Regions from separate parts of the Homo sapiens genome. Here regions 2, 3 and 4 are each reported to be linked to region 1. Evidence: microRNA targets listed by miRTarBase, many of them from high-throughput screens and not tested one by one. Region 1 holds a microRNA gene; each other region holds the end of a gene's coding sequence.
What was found. The annotated mature microRNA hsa-miR-6862-5p reads CGGGCAUGCUGGGAGAGACUUU and lies in region 1 at 2,140-2,161, shown strand. An mRNA with a match to its seed (bases 2 to 7 or 8) in the 3' UTR can be bound and repressed. Matches are read on the target gene's strand: a 7mer-m8 pairs with bases 2 to 8, a 7mer-A1 pairs with bases 2 to 7 and ends in A, and an 8mer does both.

Region 1 (3,006 bases):
TGGTAAACTTATAGACTATTCCAAAAACATATTCAAACCTTTTAAGCAGTGAAAATGAAATTTATTTATAAATGTTCAAATGGTAGATTATGGTTATTACATATGAGTTTTCAAAAATGTTGAGTCTTTCTGGAAAGATTTATTCTTCAGTATCTGTGCAAAGTTTGAAGTAATTTGTCTTTGCCATTTGGTTTGTATTTTGTTACATAAATACATACTCAAGTCTGGAGATGGTTTCAGGCAACATCCAGTAGCCTAAGACCATTTTAAGGTAGCTGGTGATCTTTTTCTGTTTTGTGGGGACCTTTTTTGTAATGAACATTTTTTTAAAATTCAGAATTTAGATTAATCGGTTGTCAAGAGAGGAGAGAAAGCGATAAAACAGTTTAGGAATAGTAAAAAAGAAAAAAATGTTTTTATATATTTGGGGGAACTGATTCATTGATTAGTTGGTCAGTCTGGAGAAAGCAGCTGGTATCAAAGAAAATAAGTTGTTTGTGGATTCTTTGGAAAACTGTAGATGTTAGCTTTGGAGCAAAATGACAGGTTGGTTTTTTTTTGTTTTGTTTTGTTTTGTTTTTTTGGAGACTGAGTCTTGCTCTGTCACCCCGGCTTAAGTGCAGTGGCATGATTGTGGCTCACTGCAGCCTTCTCTGCCTCCCAAGTTCAAGTGATTCTCGTGCCTCAGCCTCCTAAGTAGCTGGGACTACAGGCGTGCACCACCATGCCTGGCTAATTTTTGTACTTTTAGTAGAGATGGGGTTCCACCATGTTGCCCAGGCTGGTCTTGGATTCCTGACATCAAGTGATCTACCATGCTTAGCTGACAGGTTGTTTCTATTAATATGTCTACAGTGGCCTGGTTAGTACTCTGTCTTGTTAGAGATGGCTATGGTTATGGTTCACTGTGCCCTCTAGGTCATTGTTGTAGAGCATAACTTGGACCCAGGAGCTGCTGGAGGAAAAGAGGAAGTTGATGGGAGGAAGAAGCCTTAGAGGTGGGGAGGGGCTGATCTGTCATCTTCTCCCATGTCTGTCGGCAGGGCACCCACCACAGATGAGGACAAGAAGGCAGCCGAGAAGAAACGGGAGGACAAAGCTAAGAAGAAGCACGACAGGAAATCCAAGCGCCTGGATGAGGAGGAGGAGGAGGACAATGAAGGCGGGGAGTGGGAAAGGGTCCGGGGCGGAGTGCCGTTGGTTAAGGTGAGGGTTTCAGAGGTAAAATGAATTGGGGAACAGTTTGGGAGGACATAAAGGTCCCCTTGTGGGGAAAAGGCAAGGACAGTTTCCCGCTGGCATGTACATGACGGGATATGTACTGATACAGGAGAAGCCAAAAATGTTTGCCAAGGGAACTGAGATCACCCATGCTGTTGTTATCAAGAAACTGAATGAGATCCTACAGGCACGAGGCAAGAAGGGAACTGATCGGTAAGATTCGTGGGCCTGGGCAGTGGGATTGCAGGGTGGCAGAGGGTGGAGGTTGGGGGAAGGGATTGTTGGGAGGGTCTGTGTGTGGCTGTAGTAGAGGGAATTGTATGCTTGGGGCATCCCCGTCCATTATCTGCTGTTTACTCTTCTTGTGACTTAAAACCAATCACTTAACGTTTTGGATCTGTTTTCCCATCTATACAATGAGATAATGTTCTCCTCTTTTTTTTTTTTTTTTTTTTTTTGTTTGAGATGGAGTCTCGTTGTTGCCCAGGCTGGAGTGCACTGGCGCGATCTCGGCTCACTGCAACCTTTTTGCCTTCTGGGTTCAACCGATTCTCCTGCCTCAGCCTCCTGAGTAGCTGGGATTACAGGAACCCGCCACCATCCCTGGCTGATTTTGTACTTTTAGTAGAGATGGGGTTTCACCATGTCTCGAACTCCTGACTTCAAGTGATCCGCCTGCCTCAGCCTCCCAAAGTGCTGGGATTACAGGCATGAGCTACCACACCTGGCTTTTTTTTTTTTTAAGATTAAAAAAGTAAAAGAGTGTTTACCTTCTTTAGTTATTAGGTAACAGAGGATGGTGGTAGGTGTGAAGCATTTCACAGCATTCCAGGATGGTTGGGATTATTGTTGCTTCTGTTTGGAATTTATAAAGGAGAAGCAGGGATATGGGTGATGAGGAGGGCGCGTTATCCGAAGCGGGCATGCTGGGAGAGACTTTGTGATTTGTCTCCAAAGCCTCACCCAGCTCTCTGGCCCTCTAGTGCTGCCCAGATTGAGCTGCTGCAACTGCTGGTTCAGATTGCAGCGGAAAACAACCTGGGAGAGGGCGTCATTGTCAAGATCAAGTTCAATATCATCGCCTCTCTCTATGACTACAACCCCAACCTGGCAACCTACATGAAGGTGAGAGCAGTGAAGAGGCTCATCTCAGGGCATCGCTGGTGGGTTGGGGGAAGAAGGTACCTAGCATCTTAAGACTCAGGGGCTATGGAGGCAGTCTTGGTGGTGGAAGGCCCCATGATTCCTGCTGAAGGGGGAGGCATCCGCTTACTCTACCTTCACACCTCTGACTCTGATGTGGCCTGAAATCTTGGCAGCCAGAGATGTGGGGGAAGTGCCTGGACTGCATCAATGAGCTGATGGATATCCTGTTTGCAAATCCCAACATTTTTGTTGGAGAGAATATTCTGGAAGAGAGTGAGAACCTGCACAACGCTGACCAGGTAAAGGGAGGAGTTGGCAGGATAACTGGAGGTGTGTATTTTATGCTTTGGGAAGGCTCAGTGGGACCCGAGGGTTGAGGTTTGAGACTGAGATCTGGGCTAATTTGTTGACTCCTCCTTCGCCTTCCTTTTCAGCCACTGCGTGTCCGTGGCTGCATCCTAACTCTGGTGGAACGAATGGATGAAGAATTTACCAAAATAATGCAAAATACTGACCCTCACTCCCAAGGTGAGCCTGAGCAAGCGTGGGCTTTGCTGAGAGGAAAATTGTGGGGAATATTACTAGGTTTAGAGCTTTGTGAGGATTATACTAAGTCAGAGTGCTTGAAAAGCCAGCCTT
Region 2 (3,006 bases), not on the chromosome of region 1:
TTTACAAGAAGCTGAACAACTTGTATCAGAACATACATCAAGGTGAAGAGTTTCGGCCCTCTTGGTATAGGGTATGTATGTGTACATCTCCAATTTTGAACAATGATGACATAAGGACTAATACTCTATTTATTCAGGAGACCCCATAATCAGGATAATAGTAGGCATTCAGAGTAATAAAGTGATCACAGTTGAATGAACGTGTTCACCAAAAGTCTTAGACCAACCTGATATCATCTTACACTTGAATATAAGTTGTTTCCTTATCTATCCTAATTTTTTAAAAATCTGAATGCACAAGCCCTGTGATATTAGGGATGTATATTAGTGGCATTAAGAGTAAAAAATAAGCATGATTCACTAATAAAGAGATCATATGCTTTCCCTCATGAATTTGTCAATTACTAAAAACCCATCTATTAATCACTGGAGCCATTGATTTTCCGCTCTCTGCTTTCTTACAATGAAAACATGGAACCAAAGTCCACATCTCAGTCATGAGATCTTTTCAATAAAGGTGTTTTAAAATAATTTTTAAAGGAAATGCAGTTCATTCTTGGTGTGGAACTGACTAAACTTGGCAATAGAATATGATGAAATATAAGTAATACAAGCCTCCAACATTGGAATGGATGTTAAATTCTGAACAAATGATGCAATGGATATTTAAAGATTCTAAGATGATTTTTGGCTGAGAAATCAGCAGCTTCAATATGAAGGAAGCATATTAAAATATGACTGAACATAAGGCATAAACAAAGATATTTAAGGGGGGTATAATTCATTCCACAAATAATAGAAGAAATCAAAACAGCAAGAAAAATCCTTTTATTGGTGGTAAAAAGGGATTGTAAAGATGGAGTAAGTGGATTACATGTCCATGGATATTACACAACAGCAAATAGCAGAAATAAAAAGTTATGACAGCCAAGACACAGGAATAAAAGTCCATGAACATAAAAATTAAAAGAAGGCAAAATGTGATTGATAAAGATTTTACAAATTATTAGCTGAGTTAGATGTTACTGTATGTTAGACACTCAAGTAGCTGTGGAAAATCTTTAAAAAAATGATATAACCTGGAATAATCTAAATGCTTTGTTCAATCTTATGTGTTAATAATGTGTGCAAGCTTATAAAATGTACCTTTTATTTTCACTCTCAGTTTTTGTGCACTTTTAATATAACAAATTTTCAAACCACTTCATTAATAACATATCTCCACATCAGAAAATATCTGAAAAATAAGTTCCATCTTAGAAGAAAAATGTCCATCCGAGCTGCATATGAAAACCTTGAGCCATAGTATTCAAACCGTCAAAGAGCTTCTGTAGATATTGATGACAATGATGTACAAAACATTATTGGAACATAAAAAATATATATAGTATATTCAAAAGACAATTTCTAATTGCAGTTAGATTGACTACTAGGTTGACATTGACCAGTCAATTTGACATTACATTGCACAAATTTTACGATCGCACATATACAAGGACACAGGAACACATTCACTCGCTAGTTACAAGGACTTCAGTGACAATAGGATAGAATTATTTGTCATTTAAACCAGTAATAGTTGCTATGAGTACACCATTAGATTCAAAGATGGATTTGTTTCTCTAATACGTAGGAGAAATAATGGCACCAAATTGTACATATACGCATCTTAGAAGTTCAACTTGTAGGTATTATTTGCTACAGTAAGTGGAAGGTAACAATTTTGTCACATGGTTTGTTCTTTAACTGAAGGTCAATGGAAAGCCCGCTTGGCACAAACACAAGTCAATCTACAAAAGGGTTTCTGCCACTCTCGTAACAATCTCTTGTTCCGGCCTTTTCCCCAAATCGCCAATAAGTGAATATGGAACATGAGAAGCTGATCATGTGTTTTTTTTTCAAAGTCTCATGCTGATGGATTGTTCTATTTCTAGCTCCTTCCTCCTGTAGCACGCCTGATGAAGCACTTTTTGGTGATAATTTTGCTCTTATTCCTGTTTTCCTAAATAAAGGGAATCTGCAGAGCAGCAGGGGGTCCATGCACCTTTCTTCAAGTGCAATCTCAAAGCTGGCACTGGATGGGTTGCAGTGGATGAAGAGAGACCCCTGTGCCGCTCCATTCCTGAGTCTCCTGAAGATGAGGAGTCTGTCAGCCCAGCGGGGAGAAGGGCTTCTGAGCAAGGAGCTGCTGTCCCATCATCCCATCATCCGTTTGGGATGGGTCTGGCCTGGGCCCTTCCCTTCCCCGCACCTGCTCTGTCTGGCTCCACCAGCTCACTCCGAATGCCATCAGGTGAACTCATGATCCGACTGGCATGTCCACGTGGGCTGTTCCTTGGCAAGCATGGCCCAGTGTGTGTGGGCATATATATATCTATGCACAATTGTGCAAAAGAGGACATTATGTTTGTGATGTCACTATTTGATTTGTGATAAAAGTTACATACCATATGGAATTGTGCTTTGTCAGAATTCCCTTTCTTCCCAGAGAAGGCTTCGAGTAATTCAAGAATCCGAATCCTGGCCTGGAACATTTTTTGCTTGGTGTCCTTCCCTCTCTTCCTACTTAAGGCAGCAGCAGCAGTAGCGGCAGCAGCAGCAGCGGTCTCCTGTCCTCCCGACGAGGCCCCCCACTCCCAGGCTTTTCCTCCCAGCTGTTTGCACATCTCTGGAGGTGTGGGAGATCTCTGGCTTGTCTTGCTTTTCTATGTGGACCCTTCCCCCTTACAGGGTGGAAGAGCTTTGCTTGTAGTCCCGCAGAATGACAGAGGCGTAGGATACGTTGGGAGGGGTGCAGAGCACCGACTCGGACACGGGGGAGCTGGGCACCGAGCTGCCCGAGGCCACCGAGTCGCGGAAAGGCGACGGAGGCGTCAGCGCAGGCGAATCATCCGGGGTCAGTTTGCTGGCCGCCTGCAGGTCCTCCTCCTCCTCTTCCAGTTCGTCTTCTTCCGTGTTCCCTTCCCGCTCGTGCTCATACACGTACTCCTGGAGGAGCTTAAACCT
Region 3 (3,006 bases), not on the chromosome of region 1:
TGTGCCTGGGGGCAGGATCCAGGTAGGGGGAAGACCAGGCTGGATGCAGGGGTTAATAAGTGTCCCCATCACCAAGGTCTCAGTCCCCAGTAAGGAGCCTGGGCTTTCTCCTGAGGTCACTGTGCACCCACAGTAGGTTCTGAGCAAGGGCTGGGCAGGGTCAGGTTTGTGCTTTAGTAGAATAAACTATAAAGTTTCCTCTAGCTGGGCCGGGCAGGGTGGTTCATGTCTGTAATCCCAGCACTTTGGGAGGCTGAGGTGGGCAGATTGCTTGAGGTCGAGACCAGCCTGGCCAACATGGCGAAATCCCGTCTCTATTAAAAATACAAAAAATTAGCCAAGCGTGGTGGTGCATGTCTGTAATCCTAGCTACTCAGGAGGCTGAGACAGGAGAATCACTTGAACCCAGGAGGCAGAGGTTGCAGTGAGCTGAGATCCTACCACTACACTACAGCCTGGGCAACAGAGCAAGATTCTGTCTCAAAGAAAAAAAAGAGTTTCCTCTAGCTGCTAGCTAGAGTGTGAATGGGATGTGGGGAGGGCAGGACCGGGACAGGGGACCAGACAGAACACTGAGCAAGAACACCACAGGGTAAGGAGGGGCATGGAGCAGGTGGAGCAGGTGGTCCCAATGAAGAGGTGAGACCCCCAGGGAGTTGTGGGGGTAGCTGATGGGCCTTGTCAAAGGCTTGGGCGTGGAGCTGTGAGAGGAGGAAGAACCAGGGGTGACGAGGCCAGGAAGTCCAGGTGGCTGGAGAGCCCACCAGTCTCAAGGGGCTGCAGAGCCCTGTACCTCCGGGGTTCCTAGGAGCCTGTCAGTCAGGCCATGGTGCAGAGGCTGGGGTTCCTCCAAGGGCACCGGGGATCCATGGAATGGTATAGAGTTGGGGGGCGGGTAATGGAGACCCATGGCTGCCCTGAGGGATGGGAGACTGCCATGGCCTGTGGACCTGTGGTATGGGGCTCCGAGGGTGCCATCGTCTCCCTGGGGCCTCATGGATCCCCTGACTGGCTCTGCAATATGGGGTGGCAGCTGGAGCCTGAAGGAACCTGGTGTGGTCCTCAGCGTTGGGCCCCCTATCCCAGAAGTGTTGCTGAGACCACCCCCCAAAACAGTAAACCTGGGAATGTAGGGTCCCCAGCCCTCAGAACACAGAGGCCTCGCTCAGCTCACCTATCCAGTGGGCGAAGAGTCCCAGCACCAGGGGCTGGGATGGGAAATCCAACTCATGCCACCTCTGTTGTCAGCACAGGCAGCCCCGGGGATGTGATATGACACCCCAACACTCACAGAGTGCTACAGCCAGCCAACCAGGTGCCACTCAGGCAGGCTGAGCCTTCACCCCCATGCTCCCCAAAATTGGGAGTGGGTGTCAGCGCAAAAAGCCAATGGCACACATTTAGCGTGCCCCAACTGCTGTGCTGAGGCCTCAGGGTGGCAGGTGCTCATGGCGACCCGGCTGAAAGCTGTACTTGGCCCTGCCTGGTGGTGTCGGGTTAGGAGACATTCAGCGGGCACATGGCAGGCTCCAGCCTGCACCCAGCAGGGGCAGCTGGCAGGAAAGGGTATAGGGCAGCGAGCTCCCTGCAAGCAGCTTCCCCAGCAATCTGAAATGAGGCCAGTTAATGAAATCTCAGAGGGCTGGTGGGAGGGCGAGAAGTGAGGAAGAGGCCTGGCCTGGCGGGTATGGCTTTTTTTTTTTTTTTTGAGATGGAATCTTGCTGTGTTGTCCAGGCTGGAGTGCAGTGTGTGATCTGGGCTCACTGCAGCCTCCGCCTCCCGAGTTCAAATGATTCTCCTGCCTCAGCCTCTCGAGTATCTGTGATTACAGGTGCCTGCCAGCATTCCCAATTAATTTTGGTATTTTTAGTAGAGACAGGGTTTCACTATGTTGGCCAGACTGGTCCCAAACTCCTGACCTCAAGTGATCCATCCACTTCAGCCTCCCAAAGTGTTGGGATTATAGGTGTGAGCCACTGCGCCCGGCCAGGTATGGTTCTTGACACAAGGTCACAATCCCCACCTTTACAGGTCCCGTACCGTGTCAGGTCACTCTCCCAGACCCAGGAAAGCCACCTCATCCCTGCTGGAAGCTGTTGTCCAAGGCAACAGAGGAAGGAAGGCACGAGGAGGAGGGGCAGTGCTGAGTTTAAGTTAAACACCCATATGAATTTATTAAATCCAGACTGTGTTAAAGGGCGGCGGTCTAGGAGGGGGAGTGTGGTAGGGGGACGAGGGACAAGATGATGAACGGCCGTGGGCATCCCGTAGGGGGGCCCGGCCCCACCCCCGCCCAACCCACCCCCTCGGCAACGCTGCATCAGCTTCACCATGATTCCCAGTGGTGCTGGGCTGGCAGGGCGAGATGGCTGGAAACACAGAGGGACAGAGGGACAGACAGCGCCTCCACAAACAAACCCTGGCCTGCCCCGGCCCCTACATCACACGCTGGGCCCTGACCTGAGGCGGGCCTCCCACCGCCCCGGCCTGATCTGTCCAGGGAAAGGGCGACAGGGAGGGGAGGCGAGGGGGCCGGGACGCAGGGGTAGTGGTCGCCAGGAGCCGGAGCAGGTGAGGACCAGTCTCGACTAATCCTTTTTCTTGTCCTCTGCTGGCTTTGGAGGGGCTTCCTGGGGCTCGCTGGCAGAGCTGGCCCCCTGGGTGGGCTTGGTGGGCAGGGACGTGGAGGCCTCCTCCCTGGTGGCGGTGGTCGTGGTGGGTGCAGGTGTGGGCGTGAGGGCCCCTGCTGCTGTGGGAACCTCGGCCACGGGGGCGGCAGCTGTGGGGTCTTCTCCACTCATGCCAAACTCGTTGACTCGGGTGGGGTCGACGCGGTAGATCCACCGTTGGTAGAGGTAGATGAAGAAAACCACATCTGGAGAGGGGTGGGAGGCAGTGTGAGGTCGGGCTGGCCCGTCCACAGCCAGGTGGGCCTGGGTGGAGAGGGCGTGATGCAAGGGCGGGGCCGAGCCCCCTCAGACTGAGCACCCCATCTGGGGCCGTGG
Region 4 (3,006 bases), not on the chromosome of region 1:
TCAGCTGAAGACCACTGCCTTGCCTGAGGTCACACCCTCTTTCTGGGTGGCCCACATCTAATGACTGGTCAATGAGGGAGTGGAAAGACCTGGCTCTTCACCCCAATTTGGGTCAACTCTGGCTCCCCTGTGGGTTGGCCCAGCCTGTCATTCAGGACTGCATTGCAGCCTGACCTCTCCCTCTGCCCAGATCTGCCTCCCTCTCCATGCTTTTACAAACGTTATCCCAACAGCAGCCCCTCATATCCATCTCACAGGCTAATCTCTGTTTCTGGGGTTCGCAACCCATGCAGCATGTGTGTGTGCATACGTGCACAGCTGTGTCTTACAAGTAGGTGCACACGTGGATATGGGATGTGCATAACCTGCCTCCCCAGGGCCCTCCATCCAAGTGACCTAGAGGCCAGGCCAGTCCCTGTGCTGGCCCAGGCAGGCTCCTGGGGGCTCAGGTCTGAGAGGATATTGGAGATTTGGTGCTGAGCTGGGGCCTGAGGCAGGCAGAGATGCCTTCCTCTCCACATGGTCCAGGAGCGGCTCCTGGGATGGAAGAGATGGTGAAGGAGCAGGCAGCAGGGGCGTGGACTCCTTGGCCCCCTCACACCCTGTATCCACCCTTGGTAGCTCCAGGCAGCTCCATGGAGCCTCAGTCACCTTGGCTCACATCCCTTCCTCCCTGTCCTCCAAGGCTCTTGAGCCTAGAAGGGCTTTTTTTCCAGGCACGGATCTTGCTTTGGCTTGCCTAGAGCAAGCCAAATGCAGGCCATCACTCTACAGCCAGACTACTCCAAGCAGAGGAATCCTGGGATGGTGCAGACACTCTGGCCACCACTCCTCCTAAGGCCCATACGTGGGCTTGTCCTCTCCGCAGGCTGCCAGGGGTCAGAGCAGCAGACATAGCAACAGGTCAGTCTTGGAGAAGAATGGGATTCAGGCAAAGGCGGGGCAGGTAGCACAGCAAGATACCTAGAGGGCACCAGGTGTTACAGAAACATTTATTACAAGGATAAATCAGTACAATAATGGGACCTTAAAACTGCTGTGATGCAGGAGTGGAGGGCTGGGCAGTGCCCGAGGCAGGGGAGGACAGTGGGACAAGGGATGCTCAGTGGTGGAGCCACAGCCCTGGGCTCTGGATGGGGCATGGGAATGACCAGGTTCCCACATCATGCACAGCAGGGGCCTGTAGCTTGAGTCCAGACAGGCCTGCCCACATTGGTGCTGCCCCCCGCCTACCTGGAGATGTCTCTAAAATTCTGGATGTGCCCTAGTGGCTGAGGGTGTTGAGACTGGCACTGAGCAGAGATATCAGTGAAGATGCCCCAGGGGTAACCAGGTACCCACCACTGACCCCCTAGCATTCAGAGATGGGAAAACATCATTGGTCTTTGAGAGACAGGTGTGACGTTCCTCCTTGAGTTGGCAGAACCCTTAGGAATGGCTGTAGTTTGGCTCCAGCCCAGATGTTCCAGGCAGAATCCAAACAGCCTGGAAGCTTCCCATGGAAGGTTCCTGCCACATCCCTGCCTACAAATACAAAGAGTTATGTGACCAAATCCCTTAGATGAATTCTATTCATCCTAGGACTTGCTCAAGGGATACCTCCTCCAGGAAGCCTTCCTAAGCACCGCTGACTACTCAGCAGGCCATTCCTTCCCTGAGTCCCTTCCCTCATCTATACTCACTACTCCCTAGGGTCTCTCCTTGCTGCGTTTTCTGTAGGGCTGGACCTAGGGCCGTGCGCTCAGTGGCTGGTGAGCTGAGGGCACTCTCTGGGTCTAGTCTACTTGTGATGGCACCAGCTCACGGACCCCCAGGCAAAGCCCAGAAAAGGATGATAGGGGCGGGGAGTGGGGGGAGAGTAGGAAGAGTCATGTAGTACAGCAATATTTCAGGACCCTCTATTCTCTGTCATTGCAACTGCCTTTTGCACCCGCATGAAGAAGCTCCAAGAACCTGCCCTTGGTTCAGAGTTTACATACCGAGGCTCCTCTTCCCTATCTAGAATCTACAGTGCCTCACAAGCCCATGCAGAGATAAGCACCCTCTAGAATCAGAGACAGCAAGAGGCCCCCTTGCCTCCACGTATTTCCTTCTTGGCCTGCTGAGGTCTGGGCATGATGGGGCCAGACAGTGGAGTTGGGGGAAGCTCAGGCTGTCCCCAGGTGAAGATCCCTGTGGGCTGAAAGGATTGGGACGGGTCCCCTTGTGCTCTGGGCACCCCCTTTTCTCCCTGTAACCTCCTGCTCTTTCTCTGTGGGGAGGTTGGCAGGGTAGGTGGTGGGCTGGCTGTAGGGCAGGAGATCCTCTAGGGAATGGGCAGAATGGATGGAGCTAGGCCCTGCTGGGATGGCCTGGTGGGCAGCCCTGCCTTCTGTTTCCCGTCTGTAGCCTGGGTTAGAGAGTGGCGCCCCGGGCCCTGCTCTGGGGCTGGGAGCAGCGGGCAAGCAGAAGTGAAGGCTGAGCTCTGCAGGCTGTGGAATGGGGGTCTCCCCCTCAGCAAGCCACTCTCACGGGATCATCTTCAGGGGCCGGGCCTTTCCATAGGGTCTGCAACTCCAAGCCCCACTGCTTCCTCAGGTGGGCAGGGGAGTCAGGATGCAGGCCCTACTGGCTACTAGCCATGACCGTTCTGGGACATGTAAGCTGCCAGAGCCACCACCACAGCCACGTAGAGACCGGCCCCCACGGCGATGGCGAGTGTGGCTAGGAAGAGGGCCCGGCGGGAGGTGGTGCTGGCCAGGCGGAAGTCCCCTTTGGAGATGGCCTTGCTGGTCTAGGGAGAGAGACATGCTGATGAACAGGAGTGTCCCCACACCCAGCCAAACAGCCCAGCCTGCCAGGCCCCTGACCCCATCCTGCAGACGGGATGCCAAGCCCTCCAGTAGAGTGACGGGCCAGAGAAGGGACCTGGGCCCCAGGTGCTCTTACCCCCTGGGAGAAGTAGAAGGCAGCAATGCCCAGTGGCCAGAAGCAGCAGAGCATGGAGAAGAGAGTAAGTCCCAGGTG

Region 2: miRTarBase lists GRM1 as a target of hsa-miR-6862-5p. Seed matches in the 3' UTR shown: 7mer-A1 at 2,360-2,366.
Region 3: miRTarBase lists CLPTM1 as a target of hsa-miR-6862-5p. Seed matches in the 3' UTR shown: 7mer-A1 at 2,259-2,265.
Region 4: the mRNA of SYNDIG1L is a reported target of hsa-miR-6862-5p. Seed matches in the 3' UTR shown: 8mer at 2,110-2,117 and 7mer-m8 at 1,137-1,143.

Annotation. Positions count from the first base shown.
Region 1 is chr16:28,390,180-28,393,185 of GRCh38, reverse strand. It overlaps MIR6862-1 (microRNA 6862-1), which reads left to right and starts at 2,135; the gene lies at 2,135-2,204. EIF3CL (eukaryotic translation initiation factor 3 subunit C like) reads left to right here. Exons shown (of 21, transcript NM_001317857.2): 9 at 1,044-1,206; 10 at 1,331-1,434; 11 at 2,205-2,346; 12 at 2,541-2,666; 13 at 2,802-2,895.
Region 2 is chr6:146,434,515-146,437,520 of GRCh38, reverse strand. It overlaps GRM1 (glutamate metabotropic receptor 1), which reads right to left. Exons shown (of 8, transcript NM_001278064.2): 8 at 1-3,006. The coding sequence ends at 2,725. Among named protein-coding and RNA genes, the nearest start is that of RAB32, 110 kb to the left of the region's middle.
Region 3 is chr19:44,992,481-44,995,486 of GRCh38, reverse strand. CLPTM1 (CLPTM1 regulator of GABA type A receptor forward trafficking) reads right to left here. Exons shown (of 14, transcript NM_001294.4): 14 at 2,146-2,876. The coding sequence ends at 2,590. Among named protein-coding and RNA genes, the nearest start is that of RELB, 7.5 kb to the left of the region's middle.
Region 4 is chr14:74,404,921-74,407,926 of GRCh38, forward strand. SYNDIG1L (synapse differentiation inducing 1 like) reads right to left here. Exons shown (of 4, transcript NM_001105579.2): 3 at 2,929-3,006; 4 at 979-2,773. The coding sequence ends at 2,615. Among named protein-coding and RNA genes, the nearest start is that of SYNDIG1L, 20 kb to the right of the region's middle. RefSeq lists an enhancer at 2,218-2,719.